Regions from separate parts of the Homo sapiens genome. Here region 2 is linked to region 1. A link means that fine-mapping ties the variant in region 1 to the plasma level of a protein whose gene starts in the linked region. Region 1 holds a variant in brackets. A gene starts in the other region. All regions are shown on their forward strands.

Region 1 (16,889 bases):
ATTATTAACCTCGGGAGAGGCCAGCTGGCACGAAGGCCAAGGGGACTGAATTGACTCCTCCCAGCTCCGTTCAGTCACCTAGGAGGTGAAGAATTCAGCAAGCCCTGGTTCTGGTTGCCCCAGTGTGACCAGCACTGTAAACAGGGCGCCTGGCTGGTCTGGCACAGGCTGCAGCCAGGGCCGTTCGCGCCCCGCCTCCTACCAGCTCCTCCTGGATTTCTCAGGGCTGTGGCCTTTTGTTTACAGGCTCCCGCCTCACCTTCCTCTCCCAGCCCGGAGCCTCTCTGCTGAGCACATGTTTAGCATTCCCTCAGGGCGGCTTTGCTTTTCCCCTTCCCACAAAAGAAGACCCTGCAGCTGCAGACATGCTGTGGTTTCCGGAGCCTTGGCTGTCATGGGGCCAGTCACCAGGGTCCACCTGCACTCAGATGCTGTCCTGGGGGAACTGGCTGGCAAGACCCCTTCCACCCAGCTGGAGGGGTCCGGAGGAGGCCGAATCCACTCCCACATCTGCTCTGGGCTCGCTTTGGAGTTCCCCTCTGAGCAGATAGGGCTAACGTGTCCCATTTCCAATGTCTGAAAAAGAAAGGTCGAGGGGCTGGGCACAGTGGCTGATGCCTGTAATCCCAGCACTTTGGGAGACTGAGGCAGGTGAATCACCTGAGGTCAGGAGTTCAAGACCTGCCTGGCCAACATGGCAAAACCCCATCTCTACTAAAAATACAAACATCAGCCCGGTGTGGTGGTGTGCGCCTGTAATCCCAGCTACTCAGGAGGCTGAGGCAGGAGACTCTCTTGAACCCGGGAGGGGGAGGTTGTGGTGAGCCAAGATCATGCCACTACACTCCAGCTTGGGCGACAGAGCAATACTCTATCTCCAAAAAAAAAAAAAAGAAAAAAAAAAAGAAAAGAAAAAGAAAGGCTGAGGGACTCACCCGAAGTCATGGCAGTTGGAACAGTGCTCATGAAACCTAGAGGGAGAGGCCAGGTCCCAGGCTGTGCCACCTGCCATGGGTCTGGAACCCTGGGGCAAGAATGATTCTGGTGGGTCTGAGGATGATCTGGGTGGTCTGTGGATCCAGACAGCCCTGTCTGGTTTTCTTTCCTGCTATCTTTTCTATGAATGCCTATATTTTTCAAAACCACTGATGTCCTGCTGGGATGCAGACCAGCTAGCTTCCTTAGGACCACAGGACATCCCTGGGCCTCTCCCTTCTTTGATAGCTCAGTTCACTATTTCCTCCCTGGGCACAGCTGTGGGCCTCACATTCCTGTTTCCTTTCCCCTGGGAAATAGGAACAGGAAAATTGTTAGGGAAAATTGTCCAAGACTTGAAAATGGAGCAGAGATTCCTGCAGGTCCTTTGAGTCATGTCAGCCTTGGGCATTGTCTGGCAGGCCTGTTCAAGGAATTACCTGACTTTCTAGGGGTGTAGACCTTTGTCTAACTTGCTATTTACTACTCATTAGGTTATTTTACAACTTTATGACAAAGGCATAGGAAACTGATAGGGTGCAGACTTGTTTTATAGTGACACAAATAAAAGCATTTTAGTGAAAAGGCCAGGGAGGACACTCATTCTATTTTATGGGATGAAATATTGCCCCATAAAAAATTGTAAAAAAAAAAGAAAAGGGGAAAAAAGGCTAAGTCCGGGCACAGTGGCTCACGCCTGTAATCCCAGCACTTTGGGAGGCCGAGGTGGGCAGATCACCTGAGGTCAGGAGTTTGAGACCAGCCTGGCCAACATGGTGAAACCCCCACATCTCTACTAACAATACAAAAATTAGCCGGGCATGGTGGTGGGCATCTGTAATCCCAGCTACTCAGGAGGCTGAGGTGGGAGAATCGCTTGAACCTGGGAGGCAGTGGTTGCAGTGAGGGGAGATCACGCCATTGCACTCCAGCCTGGGCAACAGAGCAAGACTCCATCTTAAAAAAAAAAAAAGAAGAGAAAGAAAGTCTAAGGTTTTATATAAAGTGATTTAGCAATATTACTTTAATATTCTTTCCTTCAGTAATTGTAACTATTTTGATGTCTCCTACATTTTTTTTTAAACCAGCTCTTCCATCCTGCTGGTTCTCTCACTGATTAAATACTTTTTAGATACATGTTCATTCTATATTTGTGTGAAAGCCATGTTTTAAAATTTAATTTTGAAAAATTAACATCTGGCAAAGTTGAGGGTTTTCTTCATTTACAGTTCTATGAATTCTAGCCCATATATAGTTGCGTACCTGCTACCACAATTAGGATACAAAACAGGTCCATCATCCCCCTGAAAAACTCCCTTGGGCCATCCCTTACAACCATGTTTTTGACTTCTTGAAAATGACTCTTTCACAGGATGCAGAGGGTTGTCAGTGACTCGGGAGTTGTGGGTGTGCCCGTCTTATCAATCCCCACAGCCTTGCCTGTGGAGATGCCCTATCTGTCCCCACTCTGTCAAGCCCAGGGAAAGGCGTGGGGTCAGAGGATTTGGCTCTGTCACACCATTCACTGCCTGCCCTTCTTCCCAGCGCTTCCAAGATCTGGTTGTATTAAACACGAGAATGAAGAGAGGAAAACACCTTCGCCCACGGTGTGCTCTGGGGACATCTCCAGGTGTGGGTGGTGGCGTCAGCCACAGGACAGGTAAATAACCAAAGGGAACATGGGTACCCAAGTCAGATGTCCTCTTCGCTCCTTCCCTCAGGAGAACCTGCCTTTTCCTCACCAGGGAGCTGGCAACACCCAGGCTTCCCTGCAAGGGCGGGAGGGACATCGAGGTGCCGGATAGCCAAGGGAGCAGAGGAGGAAGGGGCTCTTCGAGTAAACTTGTTGGGAATTAAGATGTGCTGCTCTCATCGCCTGGGTGTTACTTCAGTTGGAGAAAAAAGAGGCTTCACCATTTGTCTTTGTGCAGTGTTATCCTCAGCAAAGAGGACTGGAAACGTGGTACATGGGAGGAGGGAGCCAGGGATGCGAGTGGCCAGCCACGCCCAGGGAGGGGGAGCGAGGCACAGGGATGTCTCCAGACAAAACCCCTAAATCACATGGAATCAGATACACATATTCTCTCTCTCTCTCTTTTTCACATTCTCTCTCTCTCTCTGTCACTGAGCTATTTTTCACTCAGCATTCAGAGCCTGTGGTATGTGTGGATACGAAGTAGGGCTTCAGGTCTTCATAGGTCTAAAGTCCATAATGCTGTCTCTAGTGCCCTCCCTTTAAAATGTATTTTATAGCCTTTTATTTGTCTTTACCAACGAATGGAAAAGCAATGAAGTCAGACTTTTTTGGGATTTGCTGCATCTAACCGGTGCCCTTGCCCTCTCCAGAGGCCTCCCTTTCCCTGGTGCGAGAGGCATGTGCAGGGCCTGGTAAGAAAAGGAGCCTTAGACACTGACTCCAGGGGTCCCTAGCCAGCCTCATGGGCTTTGTGACAATCCTAACACTTAATGGTGTGTTCTACTCTGACTTCCAAGTTCTCTTTTCTTAAATATGTGTCTTATCTAGGGTGACCGTGTGACTTTTAGCCTCCAAACCATGACATTCTTAAGAGTGAAAGGAGGTGGGAATAATAATTACTCTGGGACAATGTGTGTAAACTGGGACCGTGGCAGGCAAGCAGCGAAGTATAGTCACTCTTATCTTTCAGAGTAAATTGGGAACTTTTTCCATGAAGGGGCCCAGTCTGTCTATCTGTGATAAGATATACTTGGGCTTTGTCCCCAAGAGATGAGTGTCTTTTGTGTGCCAATGAGATGTCCGGTGGCTGGGGGTCCCTAGTTAGCTTCAGGATGGGGGCTGCTCTCCAGAAAGACCAAGGCAGGAGTAGAGGATTGGAACTTTCAGCCCTATCCTGGACCTCCTGGGAAGAGAGAGGGGCTGGAGATAGAGTCAATCACCAATGGCTAATGATTTAATCAATCATGTCTAGGTAATGGGATCTCCATTAAAAACTGAACAGTGAGGTTCAGAGAGCTTCTGAGTTGCTGAATACGTTGAGGTCCTGGGAGGGTGGCATTCCAGAGAGAGCGTGGAAGCTCCACACCGCCCCCTAGTACCTTGTCCTTTACATCTCTTCCATTTGCCTGTTTCTAACTTGTATCCATTCCAATAAACCAGTAATAGTAAGTAAAATACTTTCCTGAGTTCTGTGAGTCCTTCTAGCAAATTATCCAACCTGAGGAGGGGGTTGTGGAAACTCTTGGTTTATAGCTGATTGATCAGAAGTACTGGGGACAACCTGTGACTTTCGACTGGCATCCAAAGTGGAGCAGTCTCATGGGACTAAACCCTAAACCTGTGGTGTCTGCACTGACTTCAGGTCCAATCCAACATATTAATTAATCCTACATATTAATCAGGATGGAATGGAATTGTAGGATGCAATTCCTATGGAGAGTTGGAGACCACCTTGGAGTCCTCTTCCGCATCTAAGAGCTTTGTTAGGAGATGCTTAGTTAACACTGACTGATGGCTGCTTCTTTAAGGGGCTCTCTTCCTAAGAAATTTAACCCAATTGAAGTTTAGAGGGAGAAACTTCTTGGTTTAGTTCAAACACCTTATTATATGTTGGGCTGGCTTTGGTTGTTAAATATCAACTGTTGTGAATGAACACTAAGAGACCACAGGTGACTTGTGATGGAAGGAGACTCTTTCAGAGAAGCCAGCCAAGTTCAGGCAGCTGCAGGCCATGTTTGTCTAATAAGTCACAATTGTGTGGCAGAGACTCCTGTGACCCCAGTTGTGCTGGAGGCAAGAGCTAAGCGTTGGCATGCCCAGATGGGATTTCAGGTATCCACTCTGTGTGAAAACCCACTAGGACTCCTTGAAGAAATGAAGATAATTTTAAGGACTGACTACAGGATTCTAGGAGAGCAGGTTTACATGTCTAGGGGAAAAAAAATAAAGACAAAGGTGACTTTGACCCCTGAAGAATATGCTTGGATGGGCAAAAAAATCACTCCATGGTAGAATCACTGCGGGGAGTCTCTTGCACGTATCCCTGGGTGGTTGATGGTGGTTGATGGTTGATGACTTCTGACCCAGCCCTGGTGGAGGAATCTAGGAGGCCCTAAGAAAATGAAAAGAGCAGGAGTGGTCCTTTTGGAGCCTTATAAACAAGCCATGAAAACTGATCAGGAGAGACATCTCTTCCACTTCAAAGAGTTAGAAACTGGCCAGGCTGTGCCCTACCACATCCCAAGAAGCCCATACACATAATGGACACCAAAGAGAAATCTTTCCAGCAAATGGCAGCCAAGTGTTGCATCCTAAAGTCAGAATATCATGATGGTTTTCTGTTAGAGGAAGTCCAATGTCTTAAGGAAGGGCACTCTTTGGTCTAATTGGCACAGGGGCAATGGGGTAGTGTCAGCCCCAACATGGGGTAGTGGCAACCACGGTCAGAGTACACGGTGATGTCCTCACTGGGGAGTGACAGTGACTACACTGTATTGCTAGTGGCCAACACTAGCAGTGATGTATGGAGTTGGCAACATCACTGCTTGCCTTGATGATGGCCAGGCTGGTGCTCATGCAAAACCTGCTGCCGATCCCACTGAAGCACAGTGGAGAATAGCCCAGAGAGAAGTCCAGGAAGGCTTTATCAGCGGAGGCAGTGTTGATGAGATACTTGGGCCCTGCCAGGAGGAGGAGGAGGAGGGGACCATGGGGTAGGGGCCTAGGGTAAAAAATATTTCTATTCACACTGCAGTTGTGACTCAGTCCCTTAGGATGCTGTGACTGGGAAACTCACATTACACTGTGTATACACATACATTACACTGTAACCTCCACTTCCTGGGTTCAAGTGATTCTCTTGCCTCAGTCTCCTGAGTAGCTGGGCTTACAGGTGTACACCACGACGCCTGGCTAATTTTTTTGTATTATTTTTAGTAGAGACGGGGTTTTGCCTTGTTGGCCAGGCTGGTCTCGAACTCCTGACCTCAAGTGGTCCCCCTGCCTCTGCCTCCCAAAGTGCTGGGATTACAGGCATGAGCCACTGCGCCCAGCCCTGTATGATTTTTTTATGTGCAGCTCACATTCAAAATTACTGCTTGGCTTCTTTGGCGCAGAACCTCCCTTCTCCACCAGGGCCTCTCACTGGGTCTCAGTGGTAGACACTCTGGAGGATGCCTGCCTCACTCTTTGAAGTGAATTATTTTGGGTATCACCTTGATCCTAAATAAGGTCAGACAATCCCAATATGCTCTAAACATTTGTTCAAATCTTATTCAACTATTTTCATGTAGTATAATAAAATTTTATTAATATCTCTTGGTTTAATTCATGATCATTTTACATGTGGTGATATTGACTGAGTCCAAGCACTACCAACTCTGCCTTCGCTTTTTTTTTCAATTTTTAATTTTGAGGGTACATAGTAGGTATACATCCTTCATCATTGTGAAATTAAAATGTGTCTTTAGGCTGAGCACAGTGGCTCACACTTGTAATCCCAGCACTTTGAGAGGGTGAGGCGAGAGGATTGCTTGAGCCCAGGAGTTTGAGGCCAGCTTGGGCAATATAGAGAGACCTTGTCCCTACAAAAATATAAAAGTTAAAAATTAAAAAACAAATATGTCTCTTAGTGATTTTTTTCTTTTCTTAATTACATATTCACTGTAACAAAAAAGTTTGAAGTTACAGGTAGGCAAAAAGAAGAAAATTAAAACACCCCTAGTCCTATTCTCAGAGTTAGCTATTACTTACCACTTGATGTATTTCCCTCCAATCTTTTTCTGTATATGTACATGTGAATGTTTGTGTATAAAAAACTCACACACCTATAAAACATAAATAAGACATCCAGCTACCTCAATAACTGCATTATTCGTTTCTAATATGTATACTTTTTCACGTATTTGCCTATTTTTATTTCATAACCATCTGTTCTTATTTGTGATGGCTATTCTTTCATTTAGTTCCCTGAAGTTTTATGTATACATTTTAAAACCCCCTTCAAGATTGTCTATTATCTCTAGTTCCTTAAGTATAAATTTTCTTCTTTGGGGGGGTCTGAAAACTGCCTTTAGTGTTGTTGATCTTCCTTATAGGGTGTGTAATTCTTGCCTATGAGCTTGTCTTTCATGGGAGCCATCTTTCTTGGGACTTCTCCACTGTGTGGTCTGGGTTTTAGAAGAAGGATTCCGGTGAGGAGGTTTCAGTGTTGTCCTATGGAATAGAGCACTGACTTCAAACCAAGTCTATGGCTAGTGGACCAGGACTGTTGACTGTTTCCACTGATAGCTGGGCAGATGGCTTGTGTTCAGCCACAACCTTGGGCAGCCCTCTTCCTGAAGGGGTGGCATGGTCCTGCCTCCTGGACTCATGGCTTCCTGCTGCATGTGGGGCTCATGACGCATTGAAATTGCAACCACAGCTCATCCAGTCTGAGTCCCCTGTGGGTCTTCCGGCTTTAGCTCCCATTTACAGGCATGTTTTATTTTATTATACTTTGCTTTATTGCACTTTGCAGATATTGCATTTTTTACAAATTGAAGGTTTGTGGCAACCCTGCGTGGAGCAAGTCTATCAGTGCTATTTTTCCAACAGCACGTGCTCACTTCATTAGCATTTTTTAGCAATATTATCTTTTAATTAAGGTATGTACATTGTTTAGACATATGCTATTGCACACTTAATAAACCACAGTATAGGGTAAACATACTTTTATATGCACTGGGAAACCAAAAAATTTTTGTGACTTGCTTTATCATGATATTTACTGCGTGGTGGTCTGGAACTAAACTGGCACTATGCCTGAGGGATGCCTGTATGACTTTGTTCCTACTCTGTCCCTGGAGATTTCCCTTTCTTGCATGGAGCTTGGACATATCAATCTAAAATATATTTTTATATTTTATTAAGTTTTTCTATGCATTTGCAATAGGAGATGACAGCAGTAGGGGGAGTTCACCCTGTGCTCAACATGTTGACCTGAAATTCAATAGTAATTATCCTTACGTTGATTTGTGTTTGTCCTCCATACATCCAACATCTTCTTAACTACTTTAATTGCTTTGTCATTTTCTTCCATGTTCACTAGAATTATCTCAAGATTTTCCTGAGCTGGGAAAATTTCAAGCTTCCTTGATGTTTCTAATTTATCTAATAGCTCTATAAAGCTCTTGTTTTCATCCTGAATTTTTTTCCTTAGCTCTGAATTTCCTTTGCATTTCACTTGGTAGACTTATCAAGTCATCTTTGGGTTCTCGTTTTACTAAATTTCAAAAGCATATTAAATATTTTAAAATTAATTATATACCAAGTTAATACAAATTATTAATTGTTAAATTAATATAATTAACTATTAAATTAAAATGATTAATTAAGTATTATATATTCTTATTTGTTCTACAATGTGAAGCATTCTCAGGAGTTTTCTTCTGTACTTGGGAGAGAGATTTCTCCCAATCTAGATATCTGGATATGTTTATCTTTTTCATGTTGTGTTTCTTGCTTTTTTTGTTCGTTTTTGAGACAGAGTCTCACTCTGTCACCCAGGCTGGAGTTCAGGGGTGCAATTATGGCTCATTGCAGCCTCCACCTCCTGTGCTCAATTGATCCTCCTGCCTTATCCTCCAGAGTAGCTGGGACTACAGGCGTGCGCCACTACACCCTGGTCATTTTTTCTATTTTTCATAGAGACAGGGTCTCACTATGTTGCCCAGCCTGGTCTCGAACTACTGGGCTCAAGTGATCCTCCTGCCTTACCCTCCCAAAGTGCTGGGATTACAGGCATGAGCTGCCGCACTCAGCCTGTTTCTTGCTTATTTTCCTTCTCTTCTTTCTCCTACTCTGCCTTCTCCTTCTTGGTGTTCTTCTTTTTTAAAATCTAGTATGTTGGCTTAGCCTTCATGCTGTCTCTTTTAATTTTGCACAGGTAAGTCTGATCAGACTATCTAACGCTCTGAGAGTGTGAGGACGAATTCTTTTTGACACCTTTTCTAGCTACCTGTCATTTCCTCAATACTAGAGTTTGGGGACTGGGTGGTACTTCCTTCCTGCTTCCTGAGCTCTGAGGGTCACATGGACAGGTGAAGGACAGAGCTGGGCCTGGCTCCCTCCTGACGTGGGCTAGCATCCCACACCTGGGTCTGCTCCACTTGGCAGGCACATGTCCCCTCCTGGGACTTCAGCTCATTCCCTTGGACAGCACAGAGTTCTGAACAGCAGCAAGTCCAGCCAGCCACTCCTCCAGCCGCTGCTGGCTTCTGTGATGGTGCCCAGGGGCTCCTCCTCTCTGGAGCTTCTCCTGGACTCCCCAGGCTGCCTTTAGCATCTTGGCCCTCTTTGTGCCGAACTGAGAGGTGCTGGTGACCCTTCTTGGGATCCTGTTCTCTTACCTTCCCTCATTTGGCTTCAGCTATGTGTGTGGGAGAGAGACAGCTAACATTCCATTCTGAGACCCTCTATTTCTTCCCTCTTGACACCTTTTCAGTCTTATGTCATAAGGTTGTACTATTTTCCATGTGTGGTTGCCTCTGGTTAGCTTTTGACTTTTTTGTTTTTGTTTTGTTTTGAGATGGAGTTTCACTCTTGTCACCCGGGCTGGAATGCAATGGCACAATCTTGGCTCACTGCAACCTCTGCCTCCCAGGTTCAAGCAATTCTCCTGCCTCAGCCTCCCAAGTAGCTGGGACTACAGGCACCCGTCACCACGCCCGGCTAATTTTTGTATTTTTAGTAGAGCCTATTGTCCAGGCTGGCCTCAAACTCCTGACCTCAGGTGATCTGCCCGCCTCAGCCTCCCAAAGTGCTGGGATTACAGAGATGAGCGACTGCACCCTGCCAGCTTTTGACTTTTTTCAAAAAAATTATTCTTTGATCACCTTATGATGTGCCAGGGAGAAGGAGGGGTGCTTCTGGCCTCGCTTGTGCCACCCTTACCCAAAATCCAGGCACATGTGCTGTCGAGGCTCCACGCAAGACCCCAGGAACTCCTGGGTCTTTGCTACCGCCAGAGGGTTGCACCTGCTTCTCAGACAGAAGACCCCCGTCTCATGGTTTCTCTTTCTCAGGCCTCCAAACCCCTGGTTA[T/C]TTCATCTTTGAAATGAGTGTTTCATATGCAATTAACCTATGTTGAAACTTTACCAACTCTAAAGTGAAATTATACTTCCTTCCTACATCTAACTCTACCTAACCATAGAGTTCCCCTCCCGAGTATTTCTGAAAGTTTCCCAGGGACAGCTTTGCACAGCTCCAGAAAGTATCTCTCACTCTCACTCTACCCTTTTCTTCTTGCTGCCATGATTCTGCCTCTGTAGCTTATGGGACTGGCGACTTAGTGACTCTGCCAGGCCTTGGGAAGGAGACATTGCCCTCCCCAACCCCCCACAGCTCATCTGACCACAGGTTCCACTGAGTTGGGGCATAAAGAAAGCAGCCTTAGAAATTTCCATCTGCCTCCAGAGGAGAAGTGTCTTGTACCCAAAGGCCTCCATTTGGCAGGGGCCACTTTAGCTCCCACCAACAGCAATATACAGGCCCCCTTTCTCCACAGAGAGAGGAAGAAATCCCTCCCTTTCCAGCCCACAACACTCTTCCTTGCCTGCCTTGGGATGACAGACCATGAGGACACCCCTTTCTGTTAGGGGCAATCTCCCTCCTCCCTCCACACCTGAAGGTGTGGTCTGACCCTTTCCCCTCTGAGAAAATAAACCACCATCTTAGTGTCCAGTCTGAGTGTTTTGTTGTCAGAGCCTCAGGCCCGTCTAGGCAGCATTGTTCCCTCCCAGCGCATCGTTACAGCCTTTCCTCCAGCCTGAGGTGAGGAGAGGGTCAGGTCTTCCAACCTCTGGTAACCCCATCTCCCAGGAACAAATGTTGGACAACAAAGCACTCATGTCACCCAGGAGCCAAAGGGCAACCTCAACCAAGATTTTAAAAAATGGACACCTTAGAACATGTGTCTAATTTGTTTGGGGGCGGTTCTACCCATAAACACAATTAATGTTTCCTAACAGGACCCATAATGACTTTGCTCAGAATCACCCCACGTGGGCTTCCTCCAGAACAGCGGAGGCTTCTTGCCTCACAACAGGCGGCCTGCGAATGCTGCCCAACATGGTTAAAATGTGAGCACGCTGGCGGCTGACTCACAGGAAATGGTTCCCAAGGCTATGCCTGAGATAAGGCTGGCTTCTGGAGGCCTCTTTGCAGAGGAACCAATCCCACCCCAACTCCCTGATTGGATAATAAGACTCAGAAGCTCCAGTTCTCCCCTTCCTATGTGGCTTTGCAGGTTCTGTGTCTGACTGGACTGCCACTTTTCTCACGTACCTGTGGTCTGTGCTACAGAACATCCTAGCCACACAAGAAAGGTGGGAGCAGTGGGTGGCTTGAGGCCAACTGAGGTTTCAATCCAGTTCCTCTCCCCTGCCACCTGCCTTACCTGGTGCTACCTCTGCAAACACCACCTGCTGGGACAGTGTGGGTGGGAGGGGCTGGTGAGGAGGATTATTTCCTGTTACTGCCTTGGGGAAGCTGCTGAGGGCATTGCTCACGCCTTTGATCTGGGCATAGAAGGAAGCCACCTGCCCTAGCCAAGGTTTTAGTGCAATGACCAGATGAGAGGCTTCAGGTTACCTCGGGGCCCTGAGTCTGGAATCCAGAGTCACAGAGAATGAGGGAAAGTTGTGGAATCATTGGTGGAGACAGGATTGGAAACCTCTTGCAGCCAGAAAAATCACCATCACAGAGGGAGACTAGAAACCATCTCTGGGCCTGAACCTATCTTTGCTCCCGCCTTTCTTGTGCGGTCAGGTGGTTCTGGGACAGTAACCTCAGGCAGGTGAGAAAAGTGGCAGTGCAGTCAGACAATTCACAGAGGCCAGACGGGACAGGGAGAACTGGAGCTTCTGAGTCTTATTATCCAACCAGCCAGGCAGTGGGGGTGGGCTTCGCTCTTCTCTGCAGAGAGGCCTCCAGAAGCAACCTTATCTCAGGCACAGCTTATGAAGCTCTTTCCTGTGAGCCAGCCACCAGTGTGCTCAAATCTTAACAAACAGCATGACCTTTACTTAATAAAGGCCTGGGGGAAAGCCAGGGCAAGCGTTCCCACTTTAAAGTGCTTCATAAACGACGTGGCACCTGCAGTCACAAGGATGACATGATTAGCCTGCTGTCACCTGAGTCATTTTTTCCAGATGTGGTGAGGGGCAAGGCAGCCAGCTGGTGTCATGGAAAAAGCTCTGGATTCGAGTCTCGGTCAGATGTTGGCTACCCACTCAAACTGCTGCCGTGGCAGCCCTGCCTCCTTGCACGGCCGTTTCACATCTCTGATGTGGGAGATGAAGAGGGGTATGATCCATGCCTGGTATTTTGCAAACAGAATGCATGCATTCATAGATATGAGAGCACTGAAAAAACCCAAGCTCTTGATTCGGCAGCCAGACTGTGTAGGGGGATGTTCACTAGACTTGGTGTTTAAAGACTCAGGTAGGATCCAAGCTAATTCTATTTTTTTTTTTTTTTTTTTTTTTTTGAGACAGAGTCTCCCTCTGTCACCCAGGCTGGAGTGCAGTGGTGCGATTTCGGCTCACCGCAACCTCCACCTCCCGGGTTCAAGCAATTCTCCTTCCTCAGCCTCCCAAGTAGCTGGGATTACAGGCATAAGCCCCCAGCCTGGCTAGTTTTTTGTCTGTTTGGTTGGTTGTTTTTGTTTTTGTTTTTGTATTTTCAGTAGAGATGGCATTTCACCATGTTGTCCAGGCTGGTCTCGGACTCCTGACCTCAAGTGATCCGCCCACTTCAGCCTCCCAAAGTGCTGGGATTATAGGTGTGAGCCACCATGCCCAGATGGATCCAAACTAATTCTTAGTCATGTAAATCTAAGCAAGTGACTTAGTGTCTCCGGATCTCAGTTTTCTCCACTGTGGAATGGAATGGTTATAATCACCCTGCACCCGGCTCTCCTGAGAGGTAGATGAAATCAGATGGGGATGCATGGGAAGTGCTGTGGGGGCGGCGTACTCCGATGTTATTTGATGCTGTCTAAGGTTAAGCCTTCTTATTTGGGCTACTAGGGCAGAGCCCATCTGGGCCTCCCAAGTCCATTCTCTTTCAAGAGAAGAGAGCAGCTGCCAGTTGCCCTGGTAACCCAGACCAGCAGCAGGCTTCCTGCAGGGACTTTCCTGCCCTGGCACAGTTGTCAGTTTCCCTTCTCAACCTTAGCTGAGGCCGAAAGTGTGGTGGAGACACAGGTTTCTCAAGCAGGGCCCTCAGCAGAGCACACCGTGCCCACTGGCATTATTGCCACAACTTCTCCTTGCTTTGTGGAAGAGAATCTGGTTACACATCTTACTGGTTTTTCTGCTTTCTTTCTGTGACTCATCATGTTTGTGAATATTTCAGGTAAACACTTGGAGGGGGCAGCCTTCTTGGCTCAGTTTTCTGCTCTCTGTGTTCTCTGTGCCAGGCTGGTGACCCTCCTCTCTGTGTCCAGCCCCCTGTCCCCTGGAAATAGGTAAGGCATCTGAGATTGCTGGCTGCCTCGTCTGTCTTCAGCCAGGACCTGAGGGGTTTGTCTCTGTAGCAGTGGAGTTCATTCACTGCTATCCTTTGTGAAGAGTGGAAGCTGCCCATTTCTCCCCTGCCCTTCCTGACAGGAAACTAGCACTGGCTGAAATTTCTCCAGGGCTGACCTGCCTCTCGGTGTCCTGGTCCCATGTTCAATATAAAAGTCCTATGAATCGCCACAGTCTTCAGGAGTAACACTTCCTATTCCCAGAAAGTCAGGACCAGCCTGGGAGGACTTCGCACCTTCCTGGGATTTGCTCTTTTGACCATCCCCTATCTGTTTTCCTGTAATTATCTGCTGTGAAACTTACAAAACTAAAATGCCATGAGTGCTTATCTACGGGGCAACCAAAAAAGAGAAGGCCTTGAACCTGAGTCCCTCTGTACATGTGGGTTTCTATGAGGGGTGGGTAGGCACTGCCTGATGAGGGGGCAAGAAAGCCTAGAGCTGACAGGGCACCAGGGAGGGGCCGAGGAGCCTGCCTAGCAAGGAGACCTGTGGGCGAGTCCCTGATCTGTGCCAGCCAGGAAGTTGTAGAAGGCAGGGAGCAGTTGCCATGCTTATGTGATTCTTGTAGGAGTGGTCCCTGAGATTAGTTGGAAAGGCCCTTTATCAAGGATCGGAGCGCTATCCAAACTCTTGGTTCACAGGAATAATAAGTGTAAAAGCATGTAACATCCCTCGTAGCTGTCCTTTATCGACGTTTCCTCTGTGCCCTGCCTTATCTCATGCTCATGTTAAACCTGGGAGGTGGTAGTTTTATCATCACCATTTTACAGAAAAGGAAAACCAAAGAGCAACCACGTGGGCTAGGAATGTCGCATCCGAGTGGCTTTTACAGAAGCGTGCTAGATGCCAGGTGCCCTGCAAGGTGCTTTCCCAAGTACCATCTGGAATCCTCAGAAGAGGTCTGTGGGGTAGGCTCTATTATCCCTGCTTTATAGGTGAGGCCCATAAGGTCTGCAGAAGGTGATGTGCCCAGGGTGTGAGTGCAAGTCTGTCTGTCAACCCCGCTGCAGCTTTCTGCAGCACAGAAAGCTGGTCCAGCTCTTCAACTGGTTAGAAGGCTGGTTAGAAATCAGCCACAGGTCCCTGTCACATCCCAGACCATCACAGACCTCCGTGCTGCTGGAGGATGGCAACCTGCTCTTGACTGGCTCTCCCACCCTCTAATCCCTAAGCAGGCCTGAGAGAGAGGAAGGAAAAGGGAACACCTGGCCCAACAAGGGGCTTGGACCCGGGTCACCTGTACCTACCATGTTTACTTGCACAGTCTCCTCACCTTCTGTACTTATTCTGAGGGTGCATGAGCTTGGCCATTATAAACCAAGGAGACAAACTTATTTATTAGCTGCTGTGAGTCCTACTCTGTGCCTTTCCTGCTCACAAAATCTCTGTGAGGCAGAGAGCAATCCCCATTCCACAGAAGCAGGAATTGAGATAGAGGGGTCACGAATGAACCTCCCGGGTTCAAGCAATTCTCCTGCCTTGGCCTCCCGAGCAGCTGAGATTACAGGCATGCACCACAATGCCTGGCTAATTTTTTGTATTTTTAGTGGAGATGGGGTTTCACCATGTTGGCCAGGCTGGTCTCGAACTCCTGATCTCAAGTGATCTGCCCAACTTGGCCTCCCCAAAGTGCTGGGATTACAGGCGTGAGCCACTGCACCCAGCCGAGGTTCATTCTTACACTTAATAAAAATACACATATCAGACAGTCTGCTTGATGATTTATATTTTTTGTAGCTAAGGTCTTGTCAGATCTGAGTAGAGCATCATGTTTTTCAATAATCACAAGAGCTAGCTTTTATTAAGGGCTTACTGTGTCCAGTGCTGTTCTAAGCATGTCACATACTGTATTAATTCACTTAATCCTCACAACTGCCCTCTGAGGTGGCAACTATTATTATCCCCATTTTGCAGATGAGGAAACAGAGGCCCAGGGAGGTCAGATAACATGCCCATATAGCTAGAGAGTGGCAGAGCTGGGGGGAACCCTGTCGGTCTGGCTCCAGAGCCCATTGTATAGCAGCCACCTCTGCCCACCCTGGCCTGGCTAGGCCTCAATGCCAGAAACACACCATTCTCTATCTCCTGGAGGGTAACAGAGCTGCCATTATCCCAGGAGGCAAGGCTGTCCCAAGAGCATAGACCAGTAGTAGGGTTGGTTGCCAGCTTCTAGGTGTCGCCTCAAGGCTCCTTGCTGCTTCAATTATTATTCTAATAGTTCTGAGCTAGGCATGAGGTAATCTGAGCTTTTAGACCTTGGCTATTTCACTGAGGTTTGCTGTGAGGCTTCAGTTTTGTCATCTAAAACAGCACTGTCCTTCTAGAGTTGCTGTGAGGACAGGAGAGGAGTCTGCCAAGCACTTAGCAGGGGCCTGGAGGGCAGAAAGCATTCAGTGATGGGGAGGAGAGGAAAGCTCACAGAGCCTCGGTCCACGTGGCTCAGCTCTGTGCTGGAGCTGCGATGCGGTCAAAAGACCATGAAACAAAACGTGATTTCAAAATAACTCAAGTCTTTCACGTGTGTTTCTCACACCGATAAGTGAACGTAGTCCTTCGTTAGACTGCACTCGATTCTCACGGTGGCCATGTGAGAGGCACAGTTCTTCTTGCACGTCCCCCTCCGTCTTCTCCCACACATGGCTCTCACTTGCTGCAGGGGCTCCCGGTCTGGCTCTCAGTTTCCGTTTCCTCTGATTTTTATCTCACAAATGGCTGGCAGGGCGGGGCTCCTTCCTTGGAGGGTGGGCTCCAGGAGGAACTGAGGAGAGTGTAACCAGGACCCTCATTAGGGGCCATGGGGGTGGGAAAGGTTGGGAACTCGCCAGTCATTTTTATCCCATCACATGAATTATTATTTTTGGCAGAGGAGAAGGTGTCTGTGTTAGTACCACAAACTGTGGCTTAAAATGACAGAAATCTATTCTCTTACAATTCTGGAGGTTAGAAGTCAGAAATCAAGGTGGTGGCAGGGCCATGCTCTCTCTAGAGTCTCTAGGAGAGGGGCCTTCTGAAAAAAGAAAAACTTCAGCTGAATTACATTTAAGAGTTTAATTGAGTTTAATTAAATGAACAATTTGTGAATCGGACAGCCCCCAAATCAAGCGTATTCACAGAGACTCCGGCGCAGCTACATGGTGGAAGAAGATTTATAGACAAAGGGAAATGATGTACAGAAATTGGAAGTGAGGTACAGAATGACCGGATTGGTTACAGCTCAGTGTTTGCCTTATTTGAACGTAGTTTGAACACTCAGCAGAGTATGAATGGTTGAAGTATAGCCTCTGGGATTGGCCAAGACTTAGTTATTGTTACAGGCGCATACTCCTAAATTAGGTTTTCAATTTTGTCTGACTATTAAGCTAGGTT
Region 2 (6,307 bases), not on the chromosome of region 1:
CCCCACATCTTTTCTGAGGACTGGGTGGTTCACAGGACTCAATGCTGCTGCTGCAGGTCTTCCCAGAAAGCACCCCTCATTGGCCTCTGAGCACGTGTGTCCACACCAGGAAGAGACTCCAGAGCTGATCAGAAGTTTTGTGGCTGCTGTGGGACCACTTCTCACCCTCACCCCTGGGAAATGGGCCTCAGCCCTGTGGCCTCATCTCCTCCTCCCCCTGAGTCATGTCACCTGATGGTTATCGGGACACAGCCGGAATGTGCAACTTCCGGCAAAAAACTCTCATGTTTTGTGGTTATTTTGCACCATTTTGTTTCTTCCTTTGGGTTTGTGGACAGGATGGGGTGAGCAGGATGGGCGTGGCAGGGTCTAAGTCCCCTGATCCCTTCTCCTTTGCAGTAAGTCAGGTGTTTCTCTATGTGCCTAAGGAGAATTGCATCCCATAGATTAAAGTGTAAAGCGCACTTCCTGTGGAATCCAATTTTCCTATTACCTTTCATCAAAAGTAGAGATATATTCCCTCAGAAAAAACTGACCTGAGGATGTTAAGGAACACTGACATTTCAGTATTTGTATAATCATAATAATATTTATTCCCACAGAGGAGCTGTCATTATTGACGTTTTACAGAAGCCACAGGCTTTGCTCAAGTTCATTCGGTGGTAAGTGGACAAGCCACGCCAGAACTTAGCCTTCTGCTTCTCTGTCTGGCCTGGACGTTCAAGATTGCAGCAGCGCCTTTTTGGTCATGGTTGAATCAAAAAATAATTTTTGAGAAACTTTGCAATGATCAGGCCACATAAGCCACCGAATATGACACATCTCCTGCATTTTTATGTTCAGCTCAACAGTGTCATGATCCAAAGTGTCTTGGATCTTTTTTTTTTTGAGACGGAGTCTTGCTCTTGTCACCCAGGCTGGGGTGCAATGGCACGATCTTGGCTCACCGCAACCTTTGCCTCTCGAGTTCAAGCGATTCTCCTGCCTCAGCCTCCCGAGTAGCTGGGATTGCAGGTGCCCGCCACATTTTTTTTATTTTTAGTAGAGACAGGGTTTTGCCACGTTGGCCCGGCTGGTCTCGAACTCCTGACCTCGTGATCCGCCTGCCTCGGCCTCCCAAAGTGCTGGGATTACAGGAGTGAGCCACCGCGCCCGGCCCGAAGTGTCTTGGATCTTAATGAGGTTTAGTTAATCTATGACTGCATCATCATGAAAATTTCCACAATGTCCACCAGGCTTTGTCATTGAATCTTCCAGCAGCAGAGCCCATAGGTCTCCTTGGCTTCCTGACACCTTCGTGGGCAAGGCGCCCCTGTGTTCAGAAGGAAGAGGAAAGTGACAAATTCCAAAAAGGGCCAGAGGGAAGGATATTCTTGGGATCCCATAGCTGGCACAGGGCTCCATGTGGGTGGACACTCTGAGCTTGGGGACTGCAAGCTCCCAGGTGACGCATTACACATTAGGAGTGGCATTTCCTGTGCCCACCTGGTCATTCTGTGCAAGCTGGGGCACCTACTCAAGGCACGTGTGTGAGACTGTGTGTGTGTGAGTGTATGTCACTGTGTGTGAATGTGTCAGTGTGTGAGTTTGTGTGTGAATGTGTGAGTGTATTTCAGTTGTATATGTAAGTGCGTTGTGTGAATTTGAGTGTTTCAATGTGTGAATGTGTATGTGTGTTTGTATCAGTGTGTGTGAATTTGTGTTTGTGTGTGAATGTGAGTTTGTGAATGTGTGTGGGTGAGAGTGCCTGTGTGTTTGTGTGTGTGTATATGTGTGTGTGCATGAACGTGTGTTTGTGAATGTGTGCGTATGTGTGTGTTTGTGAATGTGTGTGGGTGTGTGAATGTGTTTGTGTGAGTGTATGTGTGTGGGTGTGTGTGAATGTGTGTGTATGTGAGTGTGTTTGGGTGAGTGTGTGTGTATGTGAGAGTGTGAGTGTGTTTGTGTGTGTTTGTGTGTGGGTGTGTGAATGTTTGTGTGTGTGTGTGTATGTGCATGAACGTGTTTGTGAATGTGTGTATGTGTTTGTGTGTACGTGTGTGTATGTGTTTGTGAAAGTGTTTGTGAATGTGTGTGTGAGTGTGTATATGTGAGTGTATGTGCATGAACGTGTTTGTTTGTGAATGTGTTTGTGTGTATGTGTGAGTGTGAATGTGTGGGTGTGTGTGAATATGTGTGCATGTGAGTGTGTATGTGAGTGTGTGTTTGTGAATGTGTGTGGGTGTGTGAATGTGTGTTTGTGTGTATGCGAGTGTGTTTGTGAATGTGTGGGTGTGTTTGTGTGTTTGTGAATGTGTGTGGCTGAGTGTGTTTGTGTGTGTTTGTGAATGTGTGTGGGTGAGTGTTTGTGTGAGTGTGTATGTGAGTGTGTTTGTGAATGTGTGTGGGTGAGTGTGTTTGTGTGAGTGTGTATGTGAGTGTGTGTTTGTGAATGTGTGTGGGTGAGTGTGAGTGTGTGTATGTGAGTGTGTGTTTGTGAATGTGTGTGGGTGAGTGTGTGTGGGTGTGAGTGTGTATGTGAGTGTGAGCGTGTGTGTGTTTAGAGTCTGCACTCTGTGTGGATCAGGAAAGGGGTCCTTGCAGGCTCGCTGAGTCCCTGCTCTGTGCCCAGCCCCGAGTTGGCTCCAATGGGGCTATATAGAAAGGAAGGCATGGCCGGAGGACCTCTGTGTCAAGTTGAGGACACATTTCCAAGACTAGGAACCATTCAGGGACTCTGGAGTCACGATGACAACTCCCCTTCCCTCAGCCCCGAAGCCCAGGCCTGGACCTCCAAGGGACTCAGGGAAGGGACTCAGGAAAGGGGAGTTCCCCCTGGCAGCCTCCTCGTGGGCACCACCGAGGGTGAGAGGAGCCAGCTCAGCGGGTCCCACCCCCAGGGTTGCCCACCTTGACCACAAGGAAAGGAGGGAGGAGTTATTGGGCCTTCCACTAGGAGGAGACCCGGGGAAGTGAGAGTCGGGGATCAGTCCTGCAAGCTACGGAGTCACTACAGGGAGAGGTCTCATCACTAGAAATAGCCGAAGAACCTGCAGCCTCAACCAGCGTTAAGGAGGACGTGCCGTTTCTAGGGAGTCTTAGTCGGGGCTCACCAGCTTCCTGCATTTTCTGACCGGCTCCAGGAATAGAACCAAAAGAAGCTGAACAAGGAAGCAGCGCGGCACCAAGAAAAGCAGAAGTCGGGGCCTTGGAGGCGTGACTTTCCCCTCGGGTCCAGGTAGGGCCTGGAGCTGCTGCAAGTGCCGCCTGTGCTGGGGAAGGGACCATGTGGCTGCCTTGGGCTCTGTTGCTTCTCTGGGTCCCAGGTGAGAGTTTCCCTTCCCGGGAAAGTCTGCGGCAGGGAGGGAGGGTGCGAGGGGCAGGGCCGCAGGGCAGGTATCACACGAGACGCCCCGAGTCTGGACTCCGTGCAGAACGCAGAATGCGGTGCGCTCTGTCTACCACATAAGATGGACAGATGAAGGTCCACACCCCTGGGAGAGGAAGGAGCCAGGGCCTCTCCCGGCTCTGCACCCACGTACCTTGGCTGAACCACAGCGGGGCAAGTGATAAGGGGTGGGTGCAGAAAAGGGACCTTTTAGGTTTTCAGTTGAATTCTTACAGGAAGGGGGACGAGAGGCAGGATGTGTCAGGGTGGGTGGAGAGTGGCAGCCACTGACTGCGAGGGGCATGTGGTGAGGGTGGGGGAGATGCCGGGCTCACTGGGTGCAGGGTATGGAGGAGGGGGGTGTGGGGAGGGTGGGGGAGATGCCGGCCTCACTAGGTGCAGGGTACGGAGGAGGGGGTGGGGCGGTGAGGGAGATAGGGTCGGGGTGGGGAGCAGATCGATAGTCTCTGGAATGCGGAGATTTAACCAGGGCAGCCCAGCGGCTGGGGCCTGAGCAGGGGGAAGTCCCGAGGCAGCCTTGGCTGGGGTTAGCCCCTGCATGGGCCTGAGAACCAGGGGTCAGTCCTCTCCAAGAAGGGGATATGGGACAGAGGGGACAGAAAAGGTGGTGGGGAGGGCGAGGAGGGAAAAGATCGGGCAGAGAAGCGCTGAGATCTTCTTTAGGGAGAAGCGTGGAGTTGAGTCTTCCCTGTCCAAGCGCAGGGATTCCTCCCGCAGAGTCACCTGCTGTGCCTTCAGTCACGTCCACCGCTCTCCTCAGACAGCTCCTGTGCAGACTCCTCAGGCCTAGTCCTAGGGTATTGTACGTCTTTGTGGTTGCTTTCCTTACAGATCGGAGGTTTTCTGCAATTATATTTGCTAACTACTTGTCTGTGGGAAGGTTATTACTTTTGGTGTCTTGACTTGGAAACGGGTCATCCTCCCATAACAGGTGCTCCTGCGATTCTCTTGGGTGTTCTTCTGTTTCATAGGGTCGGTGTGCATGGGAAGGTTTCAGTTCCTGTCTAATATCTGTTTCTCTTTCTCCCATTGACTCATTGGCTGGTACAGCCGGAGTGAGGCCCAGCGGACATAGTGGTAGTGGTTGTCCCTGCCTTGTTGCTGACTCAGGGAAAAAGGACCAGAGCTTCTCATTATTAGGAAGAAGGGATCCACCAATGACTATTCACAAAGCATTTTTACTTTTATTTATTTATTTATTTATTTATTTATTTATTTATTTTTTGAGATGGAGTTTTGCTCTTGTTGCCCAGGCTGGAGTGCAGTGGCGCGATCTTGGCTCACTGCAACCTACGCCTCCCAGGTTCAAGTGATTCTCCTGCCTCAGCCTCCCGAGTAGCTGAGATTACAGGCATGTACCACCATGCCTGGTTAATTTTGTATTTTTAGTAGAGATGGGCTTTCTCCATGTTGGTCAGGCTGGTCTCAAACTCCCAACCTCAGGTGATCCACTCACCTTGGCCTCCCAAAGTGCTGGGATTGCAGGCGTGAGCCACCAAGCCTGGCCAACATTTTTATTTTTTTGAGACAGGGTCTCCCTCCGTCACCCAAACTGGAGTGCGGTGGTGCAATCACGGTTCACTGTAGCCTCCACCTCCCGGGCTCAAGTGATCCTCCCACCTCAACCTCCCCAGTAGCTGAGACTACAGGTGTGTGCCACCACACCCAGCTGGATTCTTAATTTTTTTTAGGGACAGGGTCTTACCATGTTGCCCAGGCTGGCCTCCACCTCCTGGGATCAAGGGATCCTCCCATCTTGTCCTCCCAAAATGCAGGGATTACAGGCATGAACCACCACACCTGGCCCCTACAAAACATTTTTTATTTTATTTTTATTTATTTTTTTGGAGACAGAATCTCACTCTATCACCCAGGGCTGGAGTGCAGTGGCTTGATCTCAGCTCACTGCAACCTCCGCCTCCCGGGTTCAAGTGATTCTCCTGCCTCAGCCTCTTGAATAACTGGGCTTACAGGCACCCACCACCACTGCTGGCTAATTTTTTTGTATTTTAGTAGAGACGGGGTTTCACCATGTTGCCCAAGGTGGTCTCGAACTCCTGAGCTCAGGCAATCTGCCAGCCTTGGCCTCCGGCCCCCACAAAATACCATTTTTATTATTTATAGAAATTATTATTATTATTATCCTTTCAGCTATGAAGGAGGTGAACTACATTAGGAGATCTGGTCAGATGTTTGTCTTGATTTATTATGCTGGCTTCATGGAAAGAATTAGGGAGATCTCCCTGTTTCCGTGTTCTCTGCAAATGTTTACATAAAATTGAAATTATTTGTTCCTTGAAGTTTTTAGAGAACTAGCTTGTAAAACTGTCTGAGTTTTGCTTCTTTTTTTTTGATGGAAGGGAAAGAATTTCTTAATAACACTCATCATTTTTGGTCTACATTAAAAAAAATCTAGCTGGGTGCAGTGGCTCACACCTGTAATCCCAGAATTTTAGGAGGTTGAGGTGGGAGGATAGCTTAAGCCCAGGAGTCCGAGACTGGCCTGGGCAGTATAGCAAGCAAGACCCCGTCTCTTAAAAAAAAAAAAAGTCTATTCTTGGCCTACATTGATGATTTATATTTTCCTAAAAAATCATCAGTGTCGCCCAGGTTTGCAGACTTATTTGCAGAGATTTGCAAATTTTTCTTTTGAATTTTATATCTGCGTCTTCTTTATTTTTGGTCTGACTACCTACTAGTCTAATTAATTGTTTGAGGCCAGGCACGTTGGCTCACGCCTGTAATCCCAGCACTTTGGGAGGCCAAGGCGGGTGGATCACTTGAGGTCAGGAGTTTGAGACCAGCCTGGCCAACATGGTGAAACCCCGTGTCTCCTAAAAACACAAAATTAGCCAGGCATGGTAGTGTGCACCCTGTAGTCCCAGCCACTCGGGAGGCTGAGACATGAGAGTCACTTGA

Direction of the effects. Alleles are on the strand shown, and positions count from the first base shown. The strength of an association depends on the size of the effect and on how common the allele is.
As copies of C replace T in region 1, the plasma level of the protein whose gene starts at base 3,196 in region 2 goes up (moderate association).

The links. A credible set is the group of variants that fine-mapping cannot tell apart. PIP is the posterior inclusion probability: the model's chance that the variant is causal. The UK Biobank Pharma Proteomics Project read protein levels with antibody pairs (Olink). The fine-mapping took linkage between variants from a reference panel, not from the people measured, so its PIPs are less certain.
Region 2: CD300A starts here. The variant in region 1 is the best candidate, but not a certain one, in a credible set for the plasma level of the CD300A protein (UK Biobank, PIP 0.61).

What each region holds. Positions count from the first base shown.
Region 1 is chr2:62,293,812-62,310,700 of GRCh38, forward strand. No RefSeq gene overlaps it. Among named protein-coding and RNA genes, the nearest start is that of MIR5192, 96 kb to the left of the region's middle. RefSeq lists enhancers at 9,242-9,321, 9,392-9,461, 11,473-12,000, 12,001-12,526, 12,092-12,161 and 4 more. The variant T/C (reference allele first, on the strand shown) is at 10,034.
Region 2 is chr17:74,463,439-74,469,745 of GRCh38, forward strand. It overlaps CD300A (CD300a molecule), which reads left to right and starts at 3,196. Exons shown (of 7, transcript NM_007261.4): 1 at 3,196-3,305. The coding sequence starts at 3,266. LOC124904056 (a long non-coding RNA gene) reads right to left here and starts at 4,336. Exons shown (of 2, transcript XR_007065899.1): 1 at 4,112-4,336; 2 at 570-1,312. RefSeq lists silencers at 3,688-3,747, 3,788-3,847 and an enhancer at 4,208-4,337.